Homo sapiens: one gene and its partners. The protein of the gene in region 1 purifies or fractionates together with the protein of each later gene. This does not show direct contact. Each region holds a gene or a part of one and is shown in the gene's direction. Other genes may lie near its edges.

The links.
Region 2: the proteins of UTP18 (region 1) and ADARB1 purify together in Homo sapiens (co-immunoprecipitation; one large-scale study listed by IntAct). This does not show direct contact.
Region 3: the proteins of UTP18 (region 1) and RBM19 fractionate together in Homo sapiens (co-fractionation; one large-scale study listed by BioGRID). This does not show direct contact.
Region 4: the proteins of UTP18 (region 1) and C1D purify together in Homo sapiens (co-immunoprecipitation; one large-scale study listed by IntAct). This does not show direct contact.

Annotation. Positions count from the first base shown.
Region 1 is NC_000017.11:51,294,939-51,298,451, forward strand, and holds the end of UTP18 (U3 small nucleolar RNA-associated protein 18 homolog), read left to right. Parts: intron 1-2,026; coding exon 2,027-2,051; 3' UTR 2,052-2,065; intron 2,066-2,843; 3' UTR 2,844-2,995; downstream 2,996-3,513. UniProt on the Homo sapiens protein: Part of the small subunit (SSU) processome, first precursor of the small eukaryotic ribosomal subunit.
Region 2 is NC_000021.9:45,217,511-45,221,079, forward strand, and holds part of ADARB1 (double-stranded RNA-specific editase 1), read left to right. Parts: intron 1-3,325; coding exon 3,326-3,504; intron 3,505-3,569. UniProt on the Homo sapiens protein: Catalyzes the hydrolytic deamination of adenosine to inosine in double-stranded RNA (dsRNA) referred to as A-to-I RNA editing.
Region 3 is NC_000012.12:113,959,778-113,963,346, reverse strand, and holds part of RBM19 (probable RNA-binding protein 19), read left to right. Parts: intron 1-932; coding exon 933-1,115; intron 1,116-3,168; coding exon 3,169-3,288; intron 3,289-3,443; coding exon 3,444-3,482; intron 3,483-3,569. UniProt on the Homo sapiens protein: Plays a role in embryo pre-implantation development.
Region 4 is NC_000002.12:68,049,462-68,053,030, reverse strand, and holds part of C1D (nuclear nucleic acid-binding protein C1D), read left to right. Parts: intron 1-3,569. UniProt on the Homo sapiens protein: Plays a role in the recruitment of the RNA exosome complex to pre-rRNA to mediate the 3'-5' end processing of the 5.8S rRNA; this function may include MPHOSPH6.

The DNA of each region.
Region 1 (3,513 bases):
TTCTCTGATGGCCAGTGATGATGAGCATTTTTTCATGTGTTTTTTGGCTGCATAAATGTCTTCTTTTGAGAAGTGTCTGTTCATATCCTTCGCCCACTTTTTGATGGGGTTGTTTTTTTCTTGTAAATTTGTTTGAGTTCATTGTAGATTGTGGATATTAGCCCTTTGTCAGATGAGTAGGTTGCGACAATTTTCTCCCATTTTGTAGGTTGCCTGTTTACTCTGATGGTAGTTTCTTTTGCTGTGCAGAAACTCTTTAGTTTAATTAGATCCCATTTGTCAATTTTGGCTTTTGTTGCCATTGCTTTTGGTGTTTTAGACATGAAGTCCTTGCCCATGCCTATGTCCTGAATGGTATTGCCTAGGTTTTCTTCTAGGGTTTTTATGGTTTTAGGTCTAACATGTAAGTCTTTAATCCATCTTGAATTAATTTTTGTATAAGGTGTAAGGAAGGGACCCAGTTTCAGCTTTCTACATATGGCTAGCCAGTTTTCCCAGCACCATTTATTAAATAGGCAATCCTTTCCCCATTTTTTGTTTTTGTCAGGTTTGTCAAAGATCAGATGGTTGTAGATATGCAGCATTATTTCTGAGGCCTCTGTTCTGTTCCATTGGTCTATATCTCTGTTTTGGTACCAGTACCCTGCTGTTTTGGTTACTGTAGCCTTGTAGTATAGTTTGAAGTCAGGTAGCATGATGCCTCCAGCTTTGTTCTTTTGGCTTAGGATTGACTTGGCTATGCGGGCTCTTTTTTGGTTCCATATGAACTTTAAAGTAGTTTTTTCCAATTCTGTGAAGAAAGTCATTGGTAGCTTGATGGGGATGGCATTGAATCTATAAATAACCTTGGGCAGTACTTTGGGTAATTTTCTACCATAAAATGTCACTAGCAGGAAACTTCACCTGGGGAATATATATATTTTTTGGAAAGCACTATTTTGAGAATGTCAAATTGAGAAAAAGCCACTTTAATAATATTTCCACTTTCTTCGTGCCTTATGTTTAGATTAGCTTTTGCTGATTTAATAATTCAGTTTACTCCACTAGATTTAATTGATTTCTTTTTAAAAGGTGTTTCTTTCCCTGTAGCTGTAAGCTGTAAATAAGGGTGTTAACCACAAAGATAACCAAAACTTATATGCGCTGTCCAGGTTCTTTTCTGTACCCAACATACTTGGCTATAAAACAGGAACAAACAAAACCTAATTGCATCATTGCTAGAAGATATAGGTGACAAGGTGGATCTTTAGGGAGAACTAAAGAGCTTTCAGTAGAAAACTTGTGATGTAAATCACAGCCCTCTTGCCTTGCTCCTTGTGTTGGTAGTGAATGCTACATAGAACCCTGTGTTTATGTTTGTATGCTTTAGGGAATTCCTGCTTTCAAAACGGACTAAAATCTGGAGTGAAGAAAAGGAGGAATGTAAATTGGTTTTGAGGAAATAGTTGTGAAAGGAGAATATACCAGACAATAATGTGGTTTACAGTTCTACTTACTTTGAAAGGAAAACAGGTTATACCAGGATAATTTCATCAGTCTCATTTCAGATCAGATTTGGAGTGGTTCTGTTTCAGTTTGTATTTTATAAAAGGATGCAGATTCTTATTGCACTTAGAATTTTCTTCCAAATCCTTTGGTATTTTTATAAGTGAAATTTTTTTTTCTCTAAGACCCAAAGGCCATTAGATTTTCCACCAGAGCATTGCTCTTTAGAATGACACTGTTTCTAGCTATACCAGTGACTGGAATTGACTGATGACATTTTTATTGTTTATGTCTGATCAGGTATTTCATAGACCCCCCATGTGAAACTTTGGAGTAAGCCTACTCATGTTACCTAAAATCTGAGGCGTTCAGATCCTCCAGAATGTCAGATTGAGGAGTCTGAACCTAACTGCCTGGTGTGAATGATTGTGATTACATATTTTTCCCACTAAAATCTTCCTAAGTGCCCTTCTGTGATCTAATTGAAAACACTGTGGGTAATTACAAAGTTGTTCAGATGACTTATTTTTTACTTTTCCAGGTTGCACCATTACTCAGACTTCTAAAGAGACTATTTGAAGTAAGAAAACCCTTTTCTTACAAATTCTGCAGGTTTTAAGATACACCCATTGCTGTCAGTTGGTGGAAGCAGCACATTAGCTGAGCTTTGTTTCTCTACCCCTAAGTTACTGCATCTTTATTTAGAGGGGTGGGTTGGAAGTAGATCAGGAACTGTCTAGCTGAAGTTGGACCCTCCTTTCTTATCCCAAATCACAGCAATCTGGCTCGGTTCTTCTGAGGTCTGATCTCTAATGTTGCATTCAATAATTCTCATCAAAATTGTAATTACTGAACATGTTTAATCCACAAAAGACTTAATAACACAGAGAGATGGGTCTTCAGATATAGCTATAGCTTGTATGAGCTTGAATCCTCTTATTATATATATGTTTCTTGAGAGATTAGCAGCTTGCTCTGTTTCACAGAGCTAGATAATGGGGCTGGCCATTAGTTCTGCTGCCCAATATTTAAAACCATAGAACATCCTTCCCTTCTCATGGTGTCCTTTCAGGCCTGAGATGTGGTGGTTCTGAGATTGAGCTTTGCAATTGGCCTCTTCATCACAGTTGACTGTTTGGTCTCCTCAGAGATTAATGAATGTTGAGGGACTTTGAGAATGCAGATAGATTTAATTAGGACAAAGGATTTTTAAAGGTACAGGCATTTTGGGCAAAGCTTTAGCAAGGAGGGGAAAGCAGTTTAGCTCTCCTGTCTCAAAAGATTACATTGCCAGTACGTGTCTGTTGATGACCAGCAGCTATAAATCAGGTATGTAATTTCTTTTGTTCTTTCCTCAGGTCCAGTTGAGTCACAAGAGAAGCCTGTCTTGATATATCATCTCAGAAACTTTCCTGAATATGTGATAATATATGGAAAATGATTTATAGATCCAGCTGTGCTTAAGAGCCAGTAATGTCTTAATAAACATGTGGCAGCTTTTGTTTGAAAATAAGTGTATCTGGTTCTTCCCTCCACCCCCAACACACACACACACAAACTTGGATGCATTTAAGACTAAACATGAGAAATTGGAAACACCTGTCTGTAGCCAAAAATAATATAAGCAGATTTTCTCATACTTCTCATACAGCTAACCCTGATGCATAGATCTCTTCCTGAATAGATCCCCCTTCCTGAATCGATCCTCCATGCTTTAGGGGATCAGCTAACAGGTAGTCTCTTGAGCTATGGAGGTCAGTCGGCTTGATATGAGAGCAGTGAAATCTCACGTAGTGAAGTTTGAACTTCCAAGTCTTCCAGGAAAGATGATTTTGGAAATGAAAAGGCTTTTCTGGCCTTATTACTTCAAATCTTTGTCATTGTCATTTGAAGAGGAGCCATAGTAAACCTGGTAGCCTTGTCCTACAGATTATTAGCCACTGCCCTTCCTGGAAATGTTCATTATGCCAACTTAAATGTTTAATTTGTATTTCAAGGTTGGCAGCTGGCTCCATAGTTCTCTTATCA
Region 2 (3,569 bases), on another chromosome or scaffold:
GGTATTGTTTTCAGACACTTTTGCATGTGTTAAAAAAATCCACATCTTATTATTTTCATCTTAATAATTATCTTTTAAAGGAATTTAAATAATAAGAAAAAAACCTCTTGTATATTTATCCATGTAGCTATCATTTCCAGGGCTCTTCATTCTTTGTATAGATCTGGATTTCCATTTTGGTATCATTTTTTCTTCTGGCTGGAGGACTTCCTTTTACATTCCTTGTAGCACAAGTCTTCTGATGATGAATTATTTCAGCTTTGGTATGTCTGGGAAAGTATTTTGCTTTCATTTTGAAGTATATTTTGCTGTACAAATATATTTCTGCTGGAATGGCAGGGTCCTTTTTCTCCTTTAAGCACTTTAAAGACATTGCTTCCCTGACTTGTTGTTTGCGTTGTTTCCAGTAAGAAATGTGTTGTTATCTTTATTCCTCTGTGTGTTTTTTGCTCTGGGTTTGCTTAAGATTTTCTCTTAATACTAGTGTTGAACAATTTGTTCTGTTGTGCTTTGGTATATAGTTTTATTCATGTTTCTTGTGCTTGGGATTCATTGAAATTCTTTAATCCATGGGTTTGTTGGTTTCATGAAATTTGGAAATTTTTTATTCATCTTTCTTCAGATATATTTTCCGTTCCCCCTTCTCTCTCCTCACCGTCATGAAATCTAATTACACATATTTCACCCTACCTAAACCTGCCCCATATCACTGATTTTCTGTTCTTTTTTTCTCTCTTTGTGTTTCATTTTTGGTAGTTTCTGTTACTGTGTCTTTAAGTTCACTAATCTTTTCTTCTGCGGTTTCTATTCTGTGGTTAGTCCCATCAAGTGTATTTTTTATCTAATACATTGTAGTTTTCCTCTCTAGAAATTTGGCTTAGGCCTTTTTATATCTTTATGTCTGTATCTTCTATATGTGAATGTCAGGCACTTTTCCATTCTCTCAGGAGGCTGTTTCCCAGCCTTGATTGAGTAACATGCCTACTCTGATCAGTGCTCCGCAGGATATTCAAGGACACCCTCTGCGTATCTCCAGGGCTCACTCTGTCTGCATGTCTCTTCCTTCCGGTACTCTGTCTTATGAAATCTGGCTGACTTGGTTTCCCTTGACTCTCAATTCAGGGGATCTGCTACACTCTGCCTGGGTTCCTTACTCTGAACAGTGAACTGTCATCTGGGTTTTGATATCTCTCCAAGGGAGGGATAAATGGTCATTGAAAGCAAGTGAGCATGGTGACGGGGTGGGGGTGGCCTCCACAGGGCACGAAGTGAGTTGTACTGAGTCATCTGAGAGTGCAGTGTGCTGCTTCTGGCCAGTGGGCTTGACAGTTCAGTGTCTGGGTTCAGAATATGAGTCTGCCCATGTTCTAAGCATGTTCTAAAGATTCATATCCCAAATTAGTTTTGATTTTGGTGGCCTATAACATCCATGTGATATGAATTATCAAGCTCAATATATAAATGCAGATACATGTATTCAATTCCGAGTTATGCAAGTGTCTTTTTAAAAACTTTCAACCCTGCAGAATTAGCCTGTGATTAGTTAAGATGAGATCGTTTAAACACAGCAAGAAAATAAGTACAAGGGTACTTCAAAAAGTTCATAAAGTTAAAAGATAAAAAAATGTTTAAAGATATAAACATTATTTCTCAACATAAGCTCCATCAAATTCAAGACATTTTTGTAAGTGCTGATCCTAGCCATTTAGATTGTCCCTAAAGAACTGAATGGTGGCTAGGTGTGGTGGCTCATGCCTGTAATCCCAACACTTTGGGAGGCCGAGGCGGGAAGATCATGAAGTCAGGAGATTGAGACCATCCTGGCCAACATGGTGAAACCCCATCTCTACTAAAAATACAAAAACCAGCTGGGCATGGTGGCACGCGCCTGTAGTCCCAGGTACTTGGGAGGCAGAGGCAGGAGAATCGCTTGAACCCAGGAGGTGGAGGTTGCAGCAAGCCAAGATCGCACCACACACTCCAGCCTGGCAACAAGAGTGAGACTCCGTCTCGAAAAAAAGAACTGAATGTCTTGGGAGTTTAACCATGTCAGTGCAGTCTTTCTTACATTAGTAACTGAAGAAAAATTCCTTAAGCATGCCCCTTAAGGAATTTTTGAGATTAGGAAACAAAAAGAAGTCAGAAGGAGCCAAATGAGGTGGATTTGCAACCACCATAAGGTGGATGGCTCATGATTTCCTCTCGAAACCCTCACACACTTGCCCTTGTTTGATGAGAGGAATAAATAGGCGCTTTGTCATGGTGAAGGTCTCTGGCGAAGCTTCCCCAGGGGGTTTCTGCTAAAGCTTTGGCTCACTTTCTTGAAACACTGTCATCATAAGCAGATATTACCATCCTTTGGCCCTCCATGTGAACCCAACAAGCAAAACGCCTTGAGCATCCCAAAAATGCTGCCATGGCCTGTGCTTTGGCCAGTCAGCCTGTGCTTTGACTGGGCCCCTTCTGCCTCTTGGTAGCCTTTTTTTTTTTTTTTTTTGGATTATGCATTTTCTTCAGGATTGTCTTTGTAAAAGCTATTTTTATCTCCTGTTTGATGTTTGTTCTTGCTTCAATTTTAGCAGAAGTCATGTAGCTCTGATAGGAGCGCTTTTCAAACAGATGTCTTAATCTTCTTAGTGCCTCAAACTAGATCCTATTCAGACATGTTTCAGCAAGTTAGTACAAGTTTATTTTGGTGCCAAAAAATTTTGAAATCCATGAGGTTTTTTCATAATAAGCATTTTCCATGAACTTTTTCAAGACTCTTGTTAAGAATTAGGGTTTCCTATTGCATCATGGATGTCACACATGCAAAGCCACGTGACCTGAACATGCCTGGCCTCTCAGTGGCAGGGGAGCACATGCAGGCATGAGCGCCAGAGGTGGTGTGATACAGGAGCAACCCCCACCTGCACGACCTCATGGGACCCTGCATTAGTCTCAGAAGTGGCTCCCACCCATCCACTCTCAGGCTGCCAAGGTTCCTGGCTCCGTCAGTGCCAGAGTGAGAAAAGACACACTTGTCAGGAAGTCTCATGATTTCAGGTTTCTGTCAATCTTCTGCCCACCTGCCCTGTCAGACAAGTGCATACCCGTGGGTCAGTTCTGCTTTCTCAGCACTGCTCCTATTCTGGTGGCCGTGGAAGAGTGTGAGGCCACTGCCACGGCAGATGCACGCTCAAGTCTGCGTATATTCCTCGGCAGGCAGAATTCCCCCACCACGCACTTCTGTGGCCATGTCTGAGCACAGTGTGCCGCCCGTGGCTGCTCCCTCCCTGGGGGTGAAAGCGGGCTTCACACCACCTTCCTGTGTCTTCCGTTTCAGGCATCAGCAATGCAGAAGCACGGCAGCCAGGGAAGGCCCCCAACTTCAGTGTCAACTGGACGGTAGGCGACTCCGCTATTGAGGTCATCAACGCCACGACTGGGAAGGATGAGCTGGGCCGCGCGTCCCGCCTGTGTAAGCACGCGTTGTACTGTCGCTGGATGCGTGTGCACGGCAAGGTACTGAGGCGCCCTCACCGCAATGCGCCGGCTCCACCTCCCCAATAGCTTGTCTGTCCTCACAC
Region 3 (3,569 bases), on another chromosome or scaffold:
TTGTGAGGGTAGCCTGGCTGCAGTGAAGATGGTGAGAAGCCAGGAGCCTGTTTTCCATAGTGTGGGGCTTCTTGACCAAATTATAATAATAGTGTGTTAGTTTTTTAGTGCAGCTATAGCAAATTAGCACAAACTTAGTGGCTTAAACAATCCAGACAATCCTTATCTTACAGTTTTGCAGGTCAGAAATCCTAAAATCAAGGCTTTGGCAGGGCTGCAGTCCTTCTGGAAGCTCTGTGGGAATATCTGTCCCTTTGCCTTTTTTCAGCTTCTAGAAGCACCTGCCTTCCTTGGTTCATAGCTATATACTCCATATTTGGAGCCAATAGCATAGCATCTTCCAATCTTTCTGTTTCCATCTTCTCTGATCTTCCCGCCTCCCTCTCATAAGGACCCTTGAGGTGACATTGGACCTGGCTGCATAATCCAGATCATCTCCCCATCTCCATATCAGTCACACCTGACAAGTCCCTTTTGCCTTGTAAGGTAACATATCCACAGTTTCCAGGGATTAGGATGTGGGCATCTTTTGGGGGGGCTTTATTAACAAAGATATATATAGCTTACCATGCCTGTTCATTCTTTCATTTATTCCTACAAGTATTTATTAGGTATCTACTATGTAGCAGACGTAATACTGCTTCTGTAATTGGTCTTATCCTCATAGGAGCCCCATAGGGTAGGAAGATGTCATTTGCAGCCATTATGAGTCATGATTTCCACATCAGTGAGTGGTTAAGGGACTTTCTCAAGGCCACACAACTCGTGCTAGAGTCAGAGCTGGAACCTGTTGTAACTAGAAAAGTACACTCTGCCCCTCTTCATCTAAGGCCACCCTTGGAGAATCTCGTGGCCTCAGGTTTCCAGCCCATTTTGTCCCCTTGCTCTGGGGACTTTCCAGTTCGTCTCTCATTCCTTTCCCTCTGTCCTAGATGAAGGAGGAGCGTTTCAGGCAGCTGTTTGCCGCCTTCGGCACGCTGACAGACTGCAGCCTGAAGTTCACCAAAGATGGCAAGTTCCGCAAGTTTGGTTTTATTGGCTTCAAGTCCGAGGAAGAGGCCCAGAAGGCACAGAAGCATTTCAACAAGAGCTTCATCGACACATCCCGGATCACAGTGAGTGGGCAGGAGTCTCACCCTTACCTTCCTGTCAAGTGTGACGTTGTTTGATCTTTCACTCAGCACTTGAGTTCAAAGACCGTCCCTCTTCACTTTGTGATGTCTTTGGTTTTCTTCCTCACCGATTCACACACTTTCATGTGCATACAAATCACCTGAGAGCTTATTATAACAGCTTCCTGGGCCCGTCCCCAGAGCATCTGATTCAGTGCATGGAGTCAGGACCCAAGAATTCACACATCCAACAAGCCCTCAGGTGACGACCATGCTGCTGGTCTGAGGCCCACACCTTGAGAACCACAGCTCTACCTCATCCATTCACTCATGCATTTAGCAAGCACTCAATGATGCTGGGAGTTTAGAGAAAAAGGTGATGCCTCAGCCCCTGTCCTCATGGAGCCTGCTGTCTCTGGGCAGGCAGGGGGCTGACAGGTCAGCAGGCTGCTTTGGCTCAGTGACATCAGTGCTATGATAGGGTGAGCCCCAGGGACTGTGGGAGAACAAAGATCTATAGCCGGACCAGGGAGGAGTCAGGAAAGCTTCCTGGAGGAGTGGGCTCCACTCAGGTCACTCGTGTATTTAGTGACTTCGTAAAAACATCTCTAATGCTTTGTTGAGAAGGAAAAAACAGATGATGGATAAATATATATATGTCTCGTGATCCTATATAGACACAATCGTATTCCTCTATCCATACATATATGATAAATGCATAGAAGGCCATAGGATAGGATTTGTACCAAAATACTAATCATTCCTCTCCATGAGTGATAGGAATTGGAGTACATCTTTTTTAACTTCCATTGTACTTTTGTATATTATTTGAATTTTGTACCGTGAGCATGTCATTATTATAGAGATAACAAGCCTATTTTGGAAGTGTGCACAAAAGGGATTGTAACTGGCCAGGTGTGGTGGCTCCTGCCTATAATACAAGCACTTTGGGAGGCTGAGGTGGGAGGATCACTTGAAGCCAGGAGTTCAAGACCAGCCTGTGCAACATAGCAAGACTGCGTCTTTACAAAAATAAAAAAAAAAATTAGCCGGGCATGGTGACATGTGCCTGGAGTCCTAGGTATTCAGAAGGCTGAGACAAGAGGATCACTTGAGCCCAAGAGTTTGAGGCTGCAGTGAGCTATGATCATGCCACTGCAGTCCAGCCTGGGCAACGGAGTGAGACCCTGTGTCTTAAAAAGGATTGCAACCAGATGGCAGCTCCTTCCCCCAGGGGCAGTGGTTGGTTGACCAGCGTCAGCCTTAACTGTGGCTGGGAGTGGCTTGCGGTGGTGGATGCCCCAGTAACCAGCGCTCTCAAAGTCCTCTCAGAGGAGTGTATTGGAGGTTTTAGGGCCTGAATAGTGCGTCAGCTCAGGCTGGGTCTCCAGTACTCTTCCGTCCCTCCAGTGGTCACCCCAGTGCCCCTATCACCCTAGAATTGTTCTCTGGAGCCAGATGAGCTTACTTTATGATAATTAACCCAGGGCAGTGTGGGGTAACTGTGGTAGCCACTGCCCCACATTACCCTGCCCAGAGCCTGGTTGAGTGCTTGGCCCAGGTCATCTCATGCCATCCTCACAGCCGCCCGGTAGAGTGGATGGTTAAGAACTCAGGTTCCAGAGCCCAGAGACCCCCTGAGTTCCAGTCTTCACTCTGTCACTTATTACCTGGGTAAGCCAGGGAAATTGACTTCTTGATGCTCCAATTTCTTGATCTGAATTGTAGAAAGTCATAGCTGTCACTGACATGAGAGGCTCGGTGTATCAGTACTTGCAGAGCACTTCAGACAGTACCTGGCATGTGGAGTTCCTCAGTAAGTGGCAGCTATTACCATTACAGTATTACAGACTCATAATGATAGACTGTTAGAGTATTGTATTCTAGACTTGAAGGGAAAGAAAGCCCAGGCTAAGGGGTGACGTGTAATCTACTTCAGCAAACTCAGCTAGGCAGTGACAGTTGTCTGAAATGCCCGAGCTCCCAGGTGCCGAAGGGCAGCACCCAACGCCTGGGTGCCATGGCAGGTGTGAAAATCACTCTCTTTCCCACACAGGTGGAGTTCTGCAAGTCATTCGGGGACCCGGCCAAACCCAGAGCCTGGAGCAAACATGCCCAGAAACCAAGCCAGCCCAAGCAGCCTCCAAAAGACTCTACTACTCCAGAAATTAAGAAAGTATGTAAAGGGTCACTCTAGCCTCTGTCCCCACTGCCAGCAGGGTAGTCACTCACTTTTGGTTCCCAAAGATGGGCCCTCCCAGGTCAGTGCAGTTCTGTTTCCCAGCTCTCTTCATCTGTGTGACCCTCACTCTCTGTGCCTTCTGTTTTCAGGATGAGAAGAAGAAAAAGGTGGCAGGTCAACTGGAGAAGGTGAGTCTGTCCTGTTGCCCAAGGAGGAGAGAGGGTGGGCAGCAGGTGGAAGAGGGTGGAGACTGGAGAGGGTAGAGGCTGGGAGAG
Region 4 (3,569 bases), on another chromosome or scaffold:
CATGTACAACTTTAGGCATGTTCTTTAACTTCTTTTGGCTCAGTTTATTCATCTGTGAGGTTTAGATGAACAAGTGCATGTGGAATGCTTAGAGTAGTGCCTGGCACATAATCAGTGCTATTCAAGAGTTTGCTGCTGATATCGTAGAGTCACTGCTTGATCCTGGGGTCAGAGTAGCTAAGGGGACAGAGGGAAATTTCTGCGCTTTTTCTGTGGAAGGAATAAATACTCAGCAGCTGCCTATAATAAAGTGTTAGTAGAAATCAATTGAATTAGGAGGAATTTCTCATAATAGAAGAGCCTTTATTTTTTAGTCCCCCTTGTCTTTATTTTTTTAGTTAGGGAAAAGGCAAGTGGCTCAGTTCAGATTTAATGAGGGCAGTTATTCTTACTTACTACCATGCTTTCAGTGTTCACCCTAACCTGTTCTAACAATAAATAACTGCTTGTTTATTGGGGCTTAGGGACAGGGAATAATTGCAGGAAAAATCTCTACTATGTTCTTCTGAAGAAAGGAAATATTTTCTCGTAGGAAAATTTGATGAAAAAATTCACATTTAAATAAAGACCTTTTTTTGTTTTTTAAAAATACATACAGTATTTGTTAAGAGCCAAAATACTTTATTAAGTGCCTTTATTTGTTTTTTATTAAAAATTTAATATGTGCTTTTTGAAATGTAAACAATGAAGAATGAAGAGTTAAAAAAATGAGTCTGCTTTGAACCTATTCCCTAATCCTTGTCTCTTTTCAGAGAAAATGTCTATTTTTTGTATGTTCTTTCCAGACCTTTTTCTACATGTATGTATATACAATTTTTTTTTAAAAACCAAATGGCATATATTAGGCACATTATGTGTTATATACAATGTTCTCTGTTCTCTGACTTTTTCCTTCTCATTGTGTGTCACTATATATAGATTTACTTCTTTATTTTTAGAAGACATGTAATATTCTCAAGGATGAATATGGTGTAATTCATTTAACTGTTTCCCTGTCGATGAATATCTAGATTATTTCCAATATTTTGTTATAGTTTATTTCAACAAATGTATTGACTGTCAGGCAGTGCTTGTGAACGGATCACAAAAATTCCTGCTCCCATGCAGTTGCCTTTTGGCAGTAGACCGGCAACAAATAAATATATGTTAGTTGATATTGAGGAATGTAAGGTTGGGGAGGAGATAGGGAGTGTGGGGGAGGGGTGTGCATTTTAAAATGGGGTGGTTAAGAGTGAGATACCAATAGATGACATTTGAGTGGAGATCTGGTGAAGGTAACATAATGAGCTCTGAAGGTATTGGTAAGGGAGGAAGAGAGGAATAGAGTATTCTAGGAAGGAGAGAAGCCCAAAGGGAGGTAGGCATGTGCCTGATGTCGTGGGGGAAGAACAATGTGGCTGGAATGAAATAAGCAAGGGAGAGTGGGAGATGAAGTCACAGAAGGTGACGGGCAGTCAGGGCAGATTGTGTTGAGCTTTTTGAACCCACTGTAAGGATTTTTAAAAGATAAATAGTTATTATTTTTTGATTTTAAAAATAGAGTTGGGGTCTTGCTGTGTTGCCCAAGTTGGTCTTGAACTCCTAGGCTCAAACAGTCCTTCCATCTTGACCTCCCAGAGTGCTTGGATTACAGGCATAAGCCACTGCACCCAGCCTATAAATATGTATTTTAATTATAGATATGGGGTCTTGCCATGTTGCCCAGGTTGGTCTCGAACTCCTGGGCTCAAGCTGTCCTCCTGCCTTGGCCTCCCAAAGTGCTGGATTTACAGGCATGAGCCACCAGGCCGGGCCCACTGTAAGGATTTTTGTCTTATGTCGAATGAGGTGGCAAGCCTTTGGAAGTTTCTGAGCAGAAGCATGGCATAATCTTATTTACATTTTGAATGGTCTCTCTGTATTCTTGATAATAGACTTTGGCCAGAAGCAAGAAGGCTATTTAGGAGGGCATTCAGGCATGGTTTGGACCAGGATAGTGGTTTGGTGGTTTGGACCAGGATAGTAGCAGTAGAGGTGGTAGGACATGGCTAGATTCTGGGTGTGTATTAAAGATGAAGTGAGAGAGAGTAGTCAAGGATCACTCTGAAATTTTGGGACTGAACAATTGGAAAGTTGAAGTTGCCGTGAAATGAAATGATGAAAACTGCAGTAGGCAAGGTTAGGAATTTGGCTTTGGGCACGTTCTGTTTGAGAATTTATTAGACATCCAACCAGAGATATTGAGTATGCAGCTGGAAATGTAAATATGAAGTTCAATGGAGAGGTCAGGTTTGGAGAAACAAATGTTGGAGTCTTCAGTTTACTAAAGCAATTTAAAACCCTCAGTTTACCTGGGAGTAAATTAGAGAAGAGAGTCAGGAACAGCCTCTGGGCACTTCAAACTTGGTTAAGGGGCTGAGGATGTGAGAAGGATGCATCGAAGAGACCAAGAAAGGAGCCAGTGAGATAGAAAGGAAACGGAGAAAACCAAGAGAAGGCAGTCAACAGTGTCACTCAAGGAGAACTGAGAATTGACCATTGAATTTAACCATGTGGTAGTGTGGGTGACCTTGCCAAGTGCAATTTTGAGAGAAAAGTAAGGTATGTTTGTAGGAGATTTGAGAAAGGATGGAAGGAAAGGAATTAGAGACTGTTAGTATAAGCATCTCTTTTGAGGAGTTTGTTGTAAAAGAGAGAAAATGGGGCCTTAGCTGGGGGGTGATATGAAGTCAAGAAATTTTTTTTTTTTTTGTTTCTTTCTTAGATGGAGAAATAAAACATTTAAACTTATGGGTAATAGTCCAGCAGACGGACAGTTTGATACATGACAAACTGGAGTAAGTTTAGAGACAAGTTTGAGGAGGACATTTTAATTTATAAGCACATGTGCAAGGATTTTTATAGGCTAGATTCTTAAAAGGATTTCCTGAGTCAAAGGGTATGTGCATTTTAAAAACCTGTACCAATTTATATTCCACTTTCAGTGTATACCCTTTCTAACACTGAACATTCTTAATCTTTAAAATTATTGCCAATCTGATAGGTGATGATATCTTCATTATTTTAATTTGTTTTACTGCTTTCTAGGAACTGTTTATTTAGTCTATCTAATTCTTTGTGATATTTTGTCAGATACTTTCTCCTGGCTGTCTCTTGCCTTTTAACTTTGCTTATGGTATCCTTTTACCATGTACGACTTTTCAAAAATGTTTTTATGCAGTTAAGTTTGTCAGCCATTTCCTATAGCATTTGGGTTTCATTTAGATGATGTAAATATTTGATATAATCTAATATGTTTATACGTTTACATTTTTAATTCATTTGGAGTTTATTTTTGTGTATGTTATGAAAAAGGTTTTCCATCTTTCTCTGTATTCTTAAACAGCTAAATACCATAGGAGTTAACTGTTTCTTGAAGGTTTGAAAGAAATTACCTGTAAAATCTAGGACTAGAACCTCTTTGTAGGGTAGGTCTTTGACTACTGTGTAATTCTTTTTCTGTGGTTAATGATCTGTATGGTTTATGTACTTCTTTTTAGTTTTGGTAGTTGATATCTTCCCAAGAACATCATTGTTTTCATTTACATTTT